Linked DNA regions of Homo sapiens: region 2 is linked to region 1. A link means that fine-mapping ties the variant in region 1 to the expression of a gene that starts in the linked region. Tissue or cell type: monocytes. Region 1 holds a variant in brackets; the other region holds the start of a gene. All regions are shown on one strand. Distances are from middle to middle.

Region 1 (2,651 bases):
TCATGAGGCTGGATTGAGACATGTTTACCAGACACTCTGGATCGACTCACTCAACATCTGTTCCCAGTGTTCTGCCTGTTCTACAGATCTAGAAATAAAGCCACGTTTCCAGAATTCCTTGAAGCTATGGTTCTGGATGTGATTCTGCCAAACAGATCTACTTTGGAAGGCCTACCAGTCTGTGGTATGCAGTGGCAGAACAGTTATTTAAATTATCACTTGTAGGCCAGGCATGGTGGTTCATGCCTGTAATCCCAGCACTTTGGGAGGCCGAGGAGGGTGGATCACCTGAGGTCAGGAATTTGAGACCAGCCTGGCCAACATGCTGAAACCCCGTCTCTACTAAAAATACAAAAATTAGCCAGGAGTGGTTGCAGATGCCTGTAATCCCAGCTACTCAGGAGGCTGAGGCAGGAGAATCTCTCGAACCCAGGAGCCAGAAGTTGCAGTGAGCCAAGATCGCACCATTGCACTCCAGCCTGGGCAAGAAGAGTGAAAATCCATCTCAAAATAAATACATTGTCACTTGTAGTCACCTGGGAGAAAAAGTATCCATGGAAATCAAAACGCTGGAAGGCCAAGTGGCTATGGTAATAAATCTTCATGGCAAGAGTGAATAATTCAAAGATAGTGGGGTTGGCTAGCTTCTTGAATTCTTATGAACATAAAGAAAGAAAAACATAAGCATGGAGTGACCTGTAGCATCCCAGATCTGGTACCAAATTCTGTGTCAATTAGGATTAGGCACAGCAGCAAGGGACAGATACTCAGAATAACAGTGGCTTGACCAAGTTATGGAAACACCAGGGGTTCAGTCTAGGTACTGACGCACAGAAAGCCAATCACTGAGACAATAAGTATTGCCAAGGAAGAAGGCTTTAATCGGGTGCTGCAGCCAAGTTATGAGAGCTCAGTCTCAAATCCATCTCCCTGACTGACTAAATCTAGGGGCTTACATAGCAGGGAAGATATGTAACAATGTTTAAGAAAACAGGAACTAGGGAGGGGCAAGGAGGCATCTGGTGTCAGTTCTCTTGATACTTTTTTGAGAGGCCTGAAGGTCCTTTCCTGAGGAGGGAACTCAGATAAAACAAATGCAAATTTCAAGCTAGGGGCCATTTCTATGTTTATCCCAAAACAACTGTTTATGGAACTGTTGGGCCCATTTCATTTCTCACAGAAAGTTCCAGAGGTAGGTACTCAGGCTGTGGCAGTTCTGCTCCATAGTACCTTCCAGCTTGCTGCCTCTCCTTCCCTTGGGTGTGATCCTCATGTTCATAGTCCAAGATGGTAGCCATCATGTCTGTATTCCAGGCTATAGGATGGAGAAGGCAGCAAACAAAAAGGGAGGGCAAAGGACATGTGTTTCCTCCCTCCTGAAAAAGTTCTTGGAAACTCTCACATGATACTTCTGTTTACATTCCACTGTACAGAACTTTGTCACCTGGCCACATCTAACTGCAAAAGAGAGGACATGTAATCAGCAATCACTATTTTAATCAGGAAGATGAAGAGAATGTAAAATTGGGAGGCAATCATAGGATGCATGGTAGAGAGTATCAGAGGAGGTAGCTGGGATGATGGGCACCAGATGGGAAAGGACTTGATA[T/A]GACAAGCCAAGGTGTTTGGACTTTATCCTACTGGCAATGAAGAATCATCAGATAGGTTTAAAGAGCAGAGAGATATAAACTGAGCTGTTCCACTGCCATCTCTCTGACAGCTATATGAAAGGGTTCTGGCGCAGTAATACCAAACCCCAGAGACCTGTTAGAAAGCAGTTACCCCAAAATGACAGTTTCTTCAATAAATGGTGCTGGGGAAGCTGGATATCCACATGCAGAAGAATGAAACTAGACACCTATTTCTCACCATATACAAAAATCAACTCAAAATGGAATGAAGATGTAAACGGAAGACCTAAAACTATAAAACTACTAGAGTACAACATAGGAGAAATGCTTCATGACATTGGTCTGGGCAAGAATTTTTTGGAAAAAACCTCGAAAGCACAGGCAACAAAAGCAAAAATAGACAAATGGGATTACATTAAACTGTAAAGCTTATGCACAGCAAAGGAAACCATCAACAAAGAGGCAACCTACAAAATTGGAAAAAAATGTCTGCAAACTATGCACTGGTGTAATGGGTTAATATTCAGAATATGTAAGAAATTCAATTCTAGCACTTTGGGAGGCCGAGGTGGGTGGATCACCTGAGGTTAGGAGATCGAGACCAGCCTGCCCAATGTGGTGAAAACCCGTCTCTACTAAAAATGCAAAAACTAGGTGGGTATGGTGGTGGGCACCTGTAATCCCAGCTACTTGGGAGGCTGAGGTAGGAGAATTGCTTGAACCCAGGAGACAGAGGTTGCAGTGAGCCAAGATCACACCACTGCACTCCAGCCTGGGTGAAAAGAGTGAGACTTCATCTCAAAAAAAAAAAAGAAAGAAAAAAGAAACAGAATATGTAAGAAATTCAAACAACTCAATAGCAAAAGAAAAAAAAAAGCCCATATAATCCAATCGAAAATGGGAATAAGACCTGAGTAGACATTTCTCAAAAGAAGACATACATACATATATATATATATATATATGTATATGAAAAAATGCTCAACATCAGTAATCATTAGGGAAATGCAAATGAAAACC
Region 2 (2,809 bases), 40 kb before region 1:
ATTTCCTGCTTAAGCAAACTCCAGCCCAAGGTCAACAGTGAAAGGAAACTTAAGCTTAACCTATCAGAAACTGCCAACTAACCTCTAACTAGTAATTTTCCACCAAGTCATAGCTAAATAAGGCAAACAGTCATAGCCAACCAAGTAATTATTTTCCTTTGCTTCCCTGTTCGGCCTATAAAAGCCCATGCTACTAAAGCAGACCTCTCTGAACCCCTTCTGGTTTAAGTACTGCCGATTCATAAGTTGTTCTTTGCTCAAATAAAAAAGGTTATCCTACTTTGTCTGAAGTCTTTCTTTTAATAAGATGTTAGGTTTCCACACTAGGCAGGTTCTCCATAAACACTTTCACCATTTTTATTTCTTCTCCTAAGTCATGTATATATACTTTTTTACTGGCATCTAAGTGTTCTGCCTCAGATTAATGTACTAGATTAAGAACTAGGAATCATGCCTATTTCTACAAAAGAATCGTTCTTTGAATTAAGCCTTTGGACCTTCCTGATGTCATCCAATTCCTGCTTTCAGTCATCGAAGTGGGCAGTCAGGTGGTTTTAATATTGCTCCAGAAGGTGTTTGATTAAAGTTGCCAGAAGCCTTACAAATTGTTATGTAGATAGAAGGAAAATGTACTGAAAGCTATTTTTTTTACCACTCTTCATGGGTGGTTTTGAGGTACTTTAAAGGAAAGGGCTAGCAGGTATAGAAAACTAAAGGTAAGCAAAATACTCTGCATTCTAATGTACTGTTGGAGTGCTGAGATTCTTTCAAACGAAATCCTCGTTCCTTGGAAACATAAATGGATTATCCTACCTTGTTTGCTTTTTACACCCAGAGTGCTTCCGCAGAGGCACAGCAGGGGAATGAAAGGAGCTTGCCTTAGGAGGCAGATCTGGTTTGAACTCTCGCCTGCCTACGCAGGCACTTACAGGCTGTGAGGCCTGAGGAGTTACTCAACTTCTCTGAGCCCGAGCTTCCTCATCTATAAATTGAAGGATCCGTAAACAGGAAGGCCCTCATCGAGTGGTCAAAGCTGGTTTCGGCGCCCACGGCACCTCTCCTTAGGGCTCCGTTCTACCCTAACTTCTCTTCGTGCCCTGAAGCCCAGACCTAGAGGAGCAGAGGAAGGCGCTGACCTCGAAATCTGGATGGTGGCGAATCGGGCGGCAGAGCTCAGGCTCCGGGCATGGGCAGTCGGTCCCGGCCGCGAGCCGCAGCGCCAGCAGCGCCAGCAGCGCCAGCAGCGCTAGACCCGGGACGCCGCTCGGCGGGCTAGAGACGAGGCGCCAGCGTCGAAGCTGCGGCCGGGACATAGCAGCAGGTCTAGCGGGCCGGAGTGGGTTCCTACCGCCTGGGTGGGCGGGGCCTGCTGCGCGTCGGGGCAGGAAGGGGCGGGGAGAGTCGGGAAGGGCGGGGAGGGGCGGGAGGGGCGGGGCTCCGGGGCGGGCGTGGGAGGTCGGGCTTCGAGCGTCCCCGGGCGCTACAGGTGGGTGAAGTTAAGTGGCTGCTGGAGCGTCTCGGGGGACAGCCAGTGTCTGCGGCGCCGAGAGGGCCGTTCGTGGACTCAAATGGGTATCACCCCTACCGTTTATAGTCCTCCCAATAGTCTGCATCTCGTTTTGTCGTGGCTGGTCGTGTACTCCTTGTGGAGTCTGAAGGTACAAGGGGATCCCCAAAATGGAGAAGTGGGTGTCTTTGGAAGGGCCTACTGAGTAACATGGTTGGAGTGGCCAAAAGACTTTGTTTTTCTTTTGCTACTCAAAAGAAAGCTGGAATACCAAAAATTTTTACTTACGGATATCAGGTCTTAGTTAAGATCGTGGTTTGAATTCAAGCATCTAATTTTGCCTACTCTCCTGTTAAAAATCAAGTTTAACAACCTAAACACAAGGACAAAGAGATAACAGCAACAAAATGTTGGAAGCTGGAGAGCACAAGTATGAGTATGAGAGGTAAATCGGAAAAGGGGGAGATTAGTCAAAGGCTGCTCAAGGACTCTGATCGCTAGATCCTTTTTCCAGCTTCATGTCTCTGGGCAGCTGCCCCTCTTTCCCACCACGGGCTCCCACCCCGGCTGAATTCCCTGAAGGGGATAAATTCTCTGCTGAGTGGGTATTCCACCTAAAACGGAGAATAAGTGGCTTTATGCCTACTGAAAACTGAAACCCCTCGCTATCTGATTAACCTAAGAGGCTGAGCAAAGATACTGACATCGGGTTTTCTGGACAAATCATACACCCAGATCACCCTACAGTGAAATTCAAAGTTAAAAGCACCAGCTATCTACTTGGAGCTTCCTCTCTTTGTACTTTTTAATTTTTACTTTTAATCATGGACAGCAACCAAAAAAATCCAATAATGTAGAAAGAAGGGACCCAAACAACAGACAAAGGAATATGGAGGAAGCAGATGCTGCAGGGAGAACACTTTTAAAAATTCTCATAATAGCCCCAGAAAAATAAGAGAAGATGAAGCCACAACAGGGTGCAATAAAAGGGGTAGGGGATTTTTAAAAGTTAATAGAAATAAGAAAGAAGTGAAAAAACTATTAGTAGAAGATAACACTGAGGAATGTAGAGCAAAAACTCTGAAAGATAAGAAAATTGGAAAACGCAGTACAGAGGGGATGAAATAAATAATTCTTAAAGGTGCTTGAGAAGCAGCGTAGTACAAATAAGAAGAAATAAGTAATTTGGGCTGGGCACAGTGGTTCATGCTTGTAATCCCGGCACTGTGGGAGGCCGAGGTGGGCAGATCACTTGAGCTCAGGAGTTTGAGACCAGCCTGGCCAACATTGTGAAACCCCATC

What was found. PIP is the estimated chance that this variant, and not a neighbour inherited with it, causes the effect. A credible set is the group of variants that fine-mapping cannot tell apart.
Region 2: it holds the start of CTBS, and the variant in region 1 is the best candidate, but not a certain one, in a credible set for the expression of CTBS in monocytes (TOPMed, PIP 0.81).

The regions. Positions count from the first base shown.
Region 1 is chr1:84,613,210-84,615,860 of GRCh38, forward strand. All of the region lies in intron 2 of LINC01461 (long intergenic non-protein coding RNA 1461), which reads right to left. Among named protein-coding and RNA genes, the nearest start is that of LINC01461, 6.5 kb to the right of the region's middle. The variant T/A (reference allele first, on the strand shown) is at 1,610.
Region 2 is chr1:84,573,103-84,575,911 of GRCh38, forward strand. It overlaps CTBS (chitobiase), which reads right to left and starts at 1,338. Exons shown (of 7, transcript NM_004388.3): 1 at 1,137-1,338. The coding sequence starts at 1,313. RefSeq lists enhancers at 691-790, 901-1,190 and a silencer at 1,351-1,470.